Linked DNA regions of Homo sapiens: region 2 is linked to region 1. The links come from fine-mapping of genetic effects on gene expression. A gene starts in region 1. The other region holds a variant in brackets. All regions are shown on one strand. Distances are between the middles of the regions.

Region 1 (5,368 bases):
GAGGCTGAGGCAGGAGAATCGCTTCAGCCTGGGAAGCGGAGGTTGTGGTGAGCTGAGAATGCACCACTGCACTCCAGCCTGTGCGATAGAGCGAGACTCCATCTCAAAAAAATAAAAATAAAAATAAAAAAAGCTCCAGCGCTTTAGCTGGACAATCATAATAACAACTGATGGGTATTGAGTGGTTAGTATTAATATTAGCTGGTCCCTGCACTAAGACCTTGTCTGCCATGTCTGGGGCATTTCCTCTGAATTGGGCCCTGTGCTAGCACCCACAGGCCTCAAAATCACCCTAGATGTTGTGGCTGTTATGGGGTGGAAACTGAGGCTCACAGAGGGGTCACCCAGCCAGAAAGGGGCAGAGCTAGGACCCGTGCCTGCCCTTCACCCCTGCTTCACCTTAATTTGCATTGGTGGCTCTGCGCACTGGGGCAGGAGCTGGGTTGGGCAGGAGGGGGCCAACGGTGCTAGAAACACACCCAGGCCAGGTGCCGGGCCTGGACCGGGCAGGCGCTTTACATACTTGACCTTGTGGGACCCCATTTAACTGATGAGTCAATGAGAGTTAAGAGACCGGTGATCACAGTGACAGAGTCGAGACTTGAGCCCAGGTGTGAAAGCGAACTCAGTTCCCTTACCCAGGACTGATACACAGCACAGAGTCCTGAGCTGGGGACACGAGAAGCCTGAACCTTGTAGGTGGTAGTAGAGGGGGTCTCCTGGGTCATCAGCTCTCTGTCCCAGGCCCGTGGCTGTGAGGGTCATGCCCGGAGCCTGGCACAGGAAGTTCAGGCGGGGCAGGGACAAGAGAGAGTGCCCTCCTTCTTCGTCCCTGCCTGGACAGGCACCCAGCCCAGGTTATATTTAGCCCAACTGTGCTCTTCCTGAGCCACGTACCCAGCCCCTGGGGTAAGGTGGGGGCAGCTTCGGAAGGAAACCCACAGAGAGGACTCTGTGTTCCCAGCTCTGCCTATCCCACTAGGCAGGGGAAAGAGGGGTGGGGAGGCTCCTGGGGAGGGTCCCTGCCTTGTGTTAGAGGCAGATCCACTGGGACCAGGCAGACACTCCAGATGCCAGCAGCCTATTTCTTGGGTAGTTACTGTGGCATGACCCTGGCATATGCCAGAACTTTCAGAATCCCCAGGGTCCCCATTTCTTGAGCACCTACTGTGTGCTAAGATCCTTCCTGTCTTGGCTCCTTAAATCTTTGTAACATCTCCCTGGAGTGGGTACAACTGAGATATCCATTTCAGATGCGACTTATGCCCTTCAGAGCAGCTGGGAGCGAGGGGTTGTCATTCGGAGGCTGCTGAGGGATCGGCTGAGGGCATTGCCCTTCTGGCCCTCTTTCCCTGGTGACTGCCACCAACTTCACTTGGGAACCCTGCCTGCTCAGAGCCTCAGCTTTCCCCCGCCACCAGCGTGATCTCTCATAGCAATGGGGGTCAGGGGTTGGGCTGACTCATCCAGACCTCTAAACATTATCTGAGGCCACCTAGGGGGTCAGGGGGAGTTAAGGCAGTGGCCTCTGGCTGCCTCGGTTAGTCCCTGCTCCAGCACTTCCCAGGTGTGAGGACTTGGGCAAGATCCTTCATCTCTGGGGCCTCAGTTTCTCCATCTGTAAAATGGAGCCAATAAGAAAGGCTTTGAAGATTTGTGAGAGAACAGCAGGTGCTTAGAATATCCCTCCTGTATAGTAAATGCTTGATTAATATAAACTCGTCTCTGACAGCAACAGGGAGAGTATGGAGGGAGGGAGCTGTGCTTCTCACAGTGTTGCACATCCAACCTTTGCTCCTCAGTGGCCCCCACTTTCTCTGCTACCAAAGGGGAGCTTTGGCTGAGAGACAAAACCCAGCTCAGGCACCAGCCTCCCAACAGGATCCATGCTGCCTCCCTAGCACCCTACTCCAGGGACCCACCCCAGGCCTCCTGCCCCAGCTCTGGTGTTTGTTAGTTTGTTTTTTGGAGACAGGGTCTCCCTCTGTCACTGAGACTGGAGTGCAGAGGTGTGATCACGGCTCACTGCAGCCCCAACCTCCTGGGCCCAACCCAATCTCCCATCTCAGCCTCCAGAGTAGCTGGAACCACAGGCATGCACCACCATGCCCAGCTAATTAAAAAAAATTTTTTTTTGTTTTGTAGAGATGGGGGCCTCTCTATGTGGCCCAGGCTGGTCTCGAACTCCTGGGCTTAAGCAGTCCTGCCGCCTCAGCCTCCCAAAGTGCTGGGATTATAGGCATGAGCCACCATGCCTGGCTGCCCTAGCTCTTTAAAAGCAGCAACTCATTTACTCGGCACCAGCCCTGTGAGGTGGCCTCCAGACATCAGCCCATTTTAGAGATGGGGAAACAGAGGCACAAAGGATGAAGTATCTTGCCCAAGGCTGCACAGCCAGAAAGGAGAGGAAAGGGGATTTGAACCACCAGCTCCAAAGTCTATACCTTTAACACCTACACCACACGGCTTCCTGAGCCCCCAGGCCCCCTCCCAGCACCTCCCGGGACCCTGAACCTCATTCCCACAGTGTCTCAGCCTGGCCAGGGAAGGGACCGGCCGGCTGATCTCTTACCGCTGAGCCTCCAGACACCTCGAGAGCTCCTGGTCCCGTCTGTCAGCCCTAGCCCTAGGCTGGGGGGGAAAAGGAATGGGGAGGGGGGAGGAGAGAGAGACCCCAGCCATTGGCTGCGGGGGTGTGACGTCACCAGAGGGTGGGTGGTGGAGAAACAAACATCCCCCTCCTCCAGCTACATCTATCCCCAAGGGGTGGGGGCCACGGGACAGCCACCAGCCGCCTCTCTCTTGCCTGGGCCGAGATCTCTGCCATGAGCTCAGCTTCAAGGATTTGCACGTTGGCTTCCTCGACTTGGAGAATCAGGACCCCACCCCAGCCCCACTGTTTCCTGGCTCCAGGACCCGGGCCTGGCCAACTGCCTCTACTGTAAACTCCTTTCACTCCCTCTCCCTGTCAACTTGGGTTCAAATCGCAGCGCGACCACTTCCTCGCTGGGTGACCTGCTGCCAGTCACAGCTTCTCTTTGCGGATAGTAAGAGTACCCACCTTATGGGGCTGTGGTGAAGATTAAACGAGTTAAAAGAGACTGAAAATGTAAGACAATGCCGGGCACATAATGAGGGTTACTAATAAGTATTTGGTATTATTTTTCACACAAATTAGGTGGCTGGCTCATCTTGCTGGGGGGTTTTGGCCCCTTTTCAGTAAGGCTGGGCACAGGGGACCCCCAGTTCTCTGTCTAATGGAGTTACTGTTTAGGGGGACACCTATCACATACTAAGTACCATGCTCAGTGCTGAAGCCCTGCTTTTGAATCAAGGGTGTAAAATGGGCTCCTTATGCTCCCCACCCTTTTTTTTGAGACAAGGTCTCACTCTGTTGCCCAGGCTGGAGTGCAGTGGTGTGATCATGGCTCACTGCAGCCTCCACCTCCTGGGCTCAAGCAATCCTCCCGACTGAGCCCCCTCAAATAGCTGGGACCACAGGTATGCATCATCATGCCCAGCTAATTTTTGTATTTTTTGTAATGGCAAAGTTTCACCATGTTGCCCAGGCTGGTCTCGAACTCCTGGGCTCAAGCGATCTTCCCACTTCGGCCTCCCAAAGTTCTGGGATTACAGGCGTGAGCCACCGCGTCCAGCTATGCCCAATTTATAGCTATGTGGCCAGGAGGTGGTGAAGCTGAGGTCCAACCCCTGTTCTCCTGGACCACAAAAACCCTGCTACACTCTTCTGCCCCTTCCACTTTGCAGACCAGAAGGCTCAGAGAAGGTAAGTGACTCTCCCAATATCACCATAGCAGGTCATTGGCAGGGGTCCAGAGTTGAACCCAGACCTGCCCGACTCCCAAGCCAAAGCTACCAGGCCTCACCCCCAACCCCTGGACCCTGGTCCAGCCCCCAGCCTGCCCTGACTCACCAGACCCCGGGGGGCGGCACAGGGAGCACAGGTACCCCCACATGCCACTTGAACCCACCCGGCTGCTGCCTCGGAAGCTCGTCGCTCTCTGAACCCAGGCCCCAGGCCTGGGCTGGGCTGAGGCTGGGGGATTACCCCCAAAGCGCATGTCAGCAGCTTCTGCCCCATTGTCCAGCCAGGCACAGACACCAAGCCCTGGCCTCTGTCGGCACCCTCGCCCCTCACACCAGCCTGGGTGGCCCCTCTGCAGACCTGTCCCCCATCTCACACCAGAGGGTTGGGGCCTACTTCAGAGGGCGTGGGGGACCAGGCCAGGATGGCAGGATCCCGGAATGCTGGGGGCCTCCCTCCCTTCTCTCTGAAATGCCCCCTGCCCACTCTCAGCCACCGGGGAAGGCAGGAATGTGCTGAGCTCTGGGAAATGCCTTCCAGGCCTGGCAGCAACCAAGCATTGGGGTGTGGCCAGAAGCCAGCCAGAGCCCTCCTCCCAGGAGGGGTAGAAGGGATGGTATGGTCGGGGCTCCCGATGGGCCTGAGGAGACCCTCACTTCATTGCAGTCTCTCTCCTTCATTGATTCACGCAAACATTCTTTTGTTCCTATATTCATTCAACAAACACTCACAAGCCCTGTTTAGTGGTAGGTCTTTTGCTGGGCACAGGGGACATCAACAGATCTAACTCCACCCCAGGGAGGAGGCGGCAAACTCAGGAAAGGATCCTGCAGGAGGTGATATCGGCAGTCAAACTGAATTAGCCAGGCGTGGTGGCGGGCACCTGTGATCCCAGCTACTCGGGAGGCTGAGCAGGAGAATTGCTTAAACCCAGGAGGCAGAGGTTACAGTGAGGCAAGATTGCGCCATTGCACTCCAGCCTGGGTGACAGAGCGAGACTCTGTCTCAAAAAGAAAATAATAATAAATAATAAAAGGAAGTCAAAATGGAAGATTGAGGAGGAGGGAGCTAAGGAAAAAAGGAGGGAAGGGGGTTCCAGGCAGAGGGACAAATGTGGGCAAAGGACCAGAGGTGAGAAATGGAGCGGGTCTTCATTCACCATCAGCAAACATTCAGTGAGCACCTGGTCTTCTGTCCAGTCCCAGGCTGGATGGTGCTGGGGACACAGTGTGACTGGGACAGCTCAGGCCTGCATCCACACCATTCACAGTCCAGCAGGGAACAAACCCAGAAAGAGGAGGGTTGTGATGGGGCAATCATAGGCAGAGAGGTCAAAGCCTTGATGGGGAAGTCCAGAAAAGGTGGCTGCCCCAGCCTAGGAAGAGAAATCAAGGAGGGCTTCCTGGAGGAAGTGGCATTTGAGCTTGCACCTGGAGGATATATAGAAGTTAACCCAAAGCCATGGGTGGTGAAGGAATGACAGTGTGTTTCAGGTAGCGGGAACACCCTGTGCAAAGGCCCTTTGAGAAAACGGTTAAGGTG
Region 2 (5,368 bases), 43 kb before region 1:
CAGGAGACAGAGGGGTGTGTCTCACACAGCAGATTGGACACAGGTGTTTGCAAGCAGCTGTCGTCACGTGGCTCTCTGGACTGGGGGCGTTTGTCACGGTCATCTGTAGGCCTCTGAATGTCAGGGTGCGGGTTTGGTTACAAGGGATTATTAGGCTGGCAGATGTCACTCACCCACAAGCTGTCCTGACCCAGTCACACAAAGAAAGGGAAGAGTGGAGTAATTAACAGCCCAGCCTCAAGACAGGGGCCACCTCCCAGCTGTGTGACCCCAGGCAGGCCACCTCTTCTCTCCAGCTTCAGTTTCTTTATCTGTAAAATGGGGCCAATTTATAGCACCTGCTTCTTAGGGCTCTTGTGAGGATGAAATGGACTAATCCATGCAAATTTTAGCACAGTGCCTGGCACAGAGTCAGCCTTTGTGAGTCTGCTGTTACTATATATCCTGGTATGGTCTGCAGACAAACTTAAAGAACATAAAAGCTTCACAATTTGAAAAGGAACAGCCTACATGGATAACCTCTTCCATTGAAAAACCATGAATTTGTTCCTTCTGTTTTCTTCTCCCTACTGGCTCTTTTTGTGAGAAGTTGTCTTAAAACTTAACTAAAATTACAAGGCTCCTTAAGAACTGCCTGAAAAAAATAATTATGGCCAAGTGTGGTGATTCACACCTGTAATCCCAGCACTTTGGGAGGCCTAGACAGGAGGATCACTGGAGCCCAAGAGTTCGAGACTAGCCTGAGCAACATAGTGAGACCCGCCCCCCACCTCCCCTCAACCATCTCTACTAAAAATAAAAAAAAATTAGGAGGGTGTTGTGGTGCATGCCTGCAGTCTCAGATACTCAGGAGATGGAAGGAGGAGGATGGCTTGAGCCCAGGAGTTGGAGGCTGCAGCGAGCCGTGATCATGCCACTACACTCCAGCCCAGGCAACATAGCAAGACCCTGTCTCAAAAAAAAGAAAAAGAAAAAGTAATAATAATAATTACAAAAGTTAAAAACCAAAGCCAGGCATAGTGGTACACACCTGTGGTCCCAGCTACTTGGGAGGCTGAAGCAGGAGAATGACTTGAGCCTAGGAATTGGAGGCTGCAGTGAGCTGTGATCATGCCACTGCACTCTAGCCTGGGCAACATAGTGAAACCCTGTCTCTAAAAAAAAATTTTTTTATGTTAAAAAACCGTATGAGCTCCCACTCCCTGCTGGCTCCCTCTAAAGTGGTTTAAAACACAGATGTAGGAGGCAGATGGTCTGGGTTCAAATCCTGCTCCATAGCTGGATGTGGTGGTGCACTCCTGAGGTACTAGCTACTTGGGAGACTGAGGCAGGCGGAATGCTTGAGCCCAGGGATTGAAGATCAGCCTGGGCAACATAGCAAGTCCCTGTCTCAACAAACAAACAAACAAAAAAACAAAAACAAAATCCCACTCCACTACTGAGTTCTCTGTGGGGATTATAATTAAACCAGCCTCACTGGGTTGTGAGAATTCAGTGAGTTCGCTGAGAAGAGGCCTAGAACAGGGCCTGGCACACAGTAGGTTCCAGGGCATCCTTGACTGTTGCTGTTGTTGGCATCATCGTGCCTCACCCGATACCTTCCAGGACCCCCTGCCTGAGCCTCGCCCCCACCATACTGGGAGATGCCTGGAGGCCCTGCCTTGATGCTGAATTTTGAGAAAGTCCCTGGAGGGGCAGGAGGGGTCAGGAGGACTTGGAGGGGGATCACAGGGCAACTAATTATTAAAGCAGATAAAGATGTTTAAAACAGATAAGGAAGTCTTTTAATATTTTAATCTGTAAAGTCTTTAATCTATGCAGGCTAATGTAAAGTCTGTTTACTCCTAATCATGTCTCAAAATAACTCCACCGGGCATTACCTTGTGGGGTTGGAGAGCTGGCTGGTCCAGCCCCTCAGAAGCTCTCCCCTCCCCGCAGGGTGAGGAGGTCCTCCGGCAGCTGCAGACCCTGGCACCAAAGGGCGTGAACGTCCGCATCGCTGTGAGCAAGCCCAGCGGGCCCCAGCCACAGGCGGACCTGCAGGCTCTGCTGCAGAGCGGTGAGCTGGGGCCCAACTGGGGCTGGTCTGGGCCTGGGGGTACCCAGCCTGGCCCCTGATCTCTGCCCCTGCTGGTCACAGGTGCCCAGGTCCGCATGGTGGACATGCAGAAGCTGACCCATGGCGTCCTGCATACCAAGTTCTGGGTGGTGGACCAGACCCACTTCTACCTGGGCAGTGCCAACATGGACTGGCGTTCACTGACCCAGGTCTGTCTGCACCCTGTCTACCTTCCTTCCAGGCCACTCCCTGCCCCACAGGGCACCCAGCCTCCGACTGCATCCCTCACTCAATCCAGAGTCCTCTCCACCCATTCTCTGTAATGGCTTCCTTCTTGCCTCCTACCAGGCCTCCCTAATCCAAGCCATGCACGGTGGCTCACACCTATAATCTCAACACTTTGGGAGGCCAAGGTGGGAGGATTGCTTGAGCCCAGGAGTTGGAGACCAGCCTGGGCAACATAGTGAGACCCCATCTCTACCAAAAAAAAAAAAATAAGCCCGGTGTGGTGGCACACACCTCTGGTCCCAGCTCCTTGGGAGACTGAGGTGGGAGGATCACTTGAGCCCAGGAGTTTGAGGCTACAGTGGGTTGTATTCATGCCACTGCACTCCAGCCTGAGTGACAGAGTGAGACCCTGTTACAAAACAAAGAATCCCTAAATGGAGCCCTCTACTGCCCTCCCCCTGCTCCTGGAAGCCTGGGGCTCCCTCTGATCCCCAATTGCAGCTACCAGCCCCTCTACATGGCATTCAAGAACCTGCGCACCCATTTGATCTTCATTGTACATCTCTGTGTGCCTGCTCTAAGTCCAGCCCTATCCTGGGTAATGTTGGGAACATGGTGGTAACAGATGGACCTCATGGAACTCCCAGCCCAATGCAGACTGGCCTGTCACCTGACAGTGACAGCCCAGAGGGGTCAGGGC[C/T]GGGGTTGGGGAGACACAGGCAGAGGGTCAGGGCCAGGATGGAGGGAACAGAGGGCTGTGGAAGCTCAGAGACCCCAACCTGGGGCATTGGAGGGTTTCCCAAAGGAGGTATAACTAATCTGATCCCTGAAGGATAGGGAGGAATTAGCGCAAGATGGAACAGGAAACAGCTTGGGCAATGAGGTGAAGATAAGACAGGACAATAACTCATGAATTCATTTCCTCAACAGATAGTTCCCCTAACCTTTAATCTCAGCAATTATGCAGGGAGATGCTGTAGATATAGCTGTGACTGAGACATCCCTAGTGCCTGTCCTCCCAGCCCAATGGGAAGACCAGTTTGTCACCAGAAAGAATGAGGAGGGAATCCCAAGGGACTGTGAGAGCCCAGAGGAATGCCTGGTGCAGGCTGGGTAGTCATGGGAGGCTTCCTGAAGGAGGCAACATGTCAGCCTAGACCTAAGAATGAGTAGAAGCTAGCTCAGTGGAGGGTAGAAGCAACAGCAGATTGCAAACGTTCAGGAAACCTGGAGCTTTGGAATAACTGATTTTCATCAAAACTTAAGTTGATAATCATTCTAGGACTTTAGCTATTGGAGCTGGGGTGGAGGGGGTACTGTGGGACAGGGGGAAAGACAGAGACCAGACTGGGGAGTGTCCCTGTCATCTGTGAGCACTAGGCCGCTATCGCTGAGCTCAGCACTGCCCTCCTACAGGTCAAGGAGCTGGGCGTGGTCATGTACAACTGCAGCTGCCTGGCTCGAGACCTGACCAAGATCTTTGAGGCCTACTGGTTCCTGGGCCAGGCAGGCAGCTCCATCCCATCAACTTGGCCCCGGTTCTATGACACCCGCTACAACCAAGAGACACCAATGGAGATCTGCCTCAATGGAACCCCTGCTCTGGCCTACCTGGCGGTGAGTCTGGGGCAAGTGGGGCCTGTCATGTCCCAGCCCCATGCCGTCACTCACAGCCTCCATCTGTCCCTGTTTGGTGATGACAGGGAGGGCGTATCCTGACCATCAGTTCTCACCCCAGCTCATTCTGCTTGGTCAGGGGCCTGGAGTAGTTCCCAACATCCCTCGGCCTCTATTTCAGTTAGAAAATGGGTATTGTTTCCAACCTGTTAGGGCTGCTGGGAGAGGTACCCTGGGTTCATGCACACCAAACCTTTGGTGCTCTATATCATCCAGTATAGCCACAGGTGGCTCTTTCAGTTTAAGTTAATTAAATGCAATTAACAATTCAGGCCAAGTGGGGTGGCTTATGCCTGTAATCCCAATACTTTGGGAGGTTGAGGTGACAGGATCACTTGAGGCCAGGAGTTTGAGACCAGCCTGGACAACATAGCAAGACTCCATCTTTACAAACAAACAAACAAACAAACAAAACTAGCTGGGTTGGGTTGTGCATGCATGTAGTCACAGCTACGCAGGAGGCTGAGGCAGGGGGATCACTTGAGCCCAGGAAATCTAGGCTGCAGTGAGCCATGATCACACCACTGTACTCCAGCCTGGGTGACAGCCTGTTTCAAAAAAAAATTGTTTCAAGCCAGGCATGGTTTCTCATCCCTGTAATCCCAGCACTTTGGGAGGCCAAGGCCAAGATGGGAGGATCACTTGAGGCCAGGAGTTCATGACCAGCCTGGGCAACATAGGGAGACATCATTTCTTTCTATTTTTTTTTTTTTTTTGGTCTTATTATTTATTGTTCTAGATAGGATACCCAAGAACTAGGGAGACACCATTTCTACAAAAACATAATATTAATTAAAATTAGCCGGGTGTGGTTGTGTGCACCTGTAGTCCCTGGGGAGGCTAAGACAGGGGGATCACTTGAGCCCAGGAGTTTGAGGCTGCGTGAGCTGATTGTACCACTGCACTCCAGCCTGGGCAAGAGGCTGTTGCCCTGTCTCCAAAAAAAGAAAAAATTCAGTTCCTCATGCAGTAGCCACATTTCATATGCTCAGTAGCACCTGTAGCAAGTGACCACCATATTGGACATTTCCATCACTGTGACAGGCTCTGTTGGACAACACTGGCTCTCGCCATGGCAGATACTGATCACTCTGGACAAGGCACTGATGTTTCTAGCTCTTGATAGTTTCACTAGTTGAGGCAGGCAACCCAGGTCTCCCTAGGTCCCCCTGAGCAAGTTACCTGTCCAAGCCCAGAGTCATCGTGGAAGGCACAACCCTAAGGCGTGGACGTAGGGAAGTGTGACTCATTGGGGTCTTTCACTACAAGGGCCTCCCGCAGGGGATCAAGGCTCTCCTCATTACCACTTCCCCTTTTAGAGCCTCAGTTTCCTTGTCTCTTGAGCATTAAGGAAGATGGGGGGCCAGGCACAGTGGCTCATGCCTGTAATCCTAGCATTTTGGG

Direction of the effects. Alleles are on the strand shown, and positions count from the first base shown. SD is a standard deviation of normalised expression in the study named.
In carriers of allele C in region 2, the expression in Th2 cells of the gene that starts at base 2,613 in region 1 tends to be lower than with T alone (large effect, 1.5 SD a copy in Schmiedel 2018).

The links. PIP is the estimated chance that this variant, and not a neighbour inherited with it, causes the effect.
Region 2: its variant is the best candidate, but not a certain one, in a credible set for the expression of PRX in Th2 cells (Schmiedel 2018, PIP 0.51).

Annotation. Positions count from the first base shown.
Region 1 is chr19:40,410,766-40,416,133 of GRCh38, forward strand. PRX (periaxin) reads right to left here and starts at 2,613. Exons shown (of 7, transcript NM_181882.3): 1 at 2,573-2,613. RefSeq lists an enhancer at 3,423-4,071.
Region 2 is chr19:40,367,970-40,373,337 of GRCh38, forward strand. PLD3 (phospholipase D family member 3) reads left to right here. Exons shown (of 13, transcript NM_012268.4): 7 at 1,939-2,059; 8 at 2,141-2,268; 9 at 3,704-3,904. MIR6796 (microRNA 6796) reads left to right here and starts at 1,877; the gene lies at 1,877-1,938. RefSeq lists a silencer at 1-142 and an enhancer at 3,813-4,107. The variant C/T (reference allele first, on the strand shown) is at 2,988.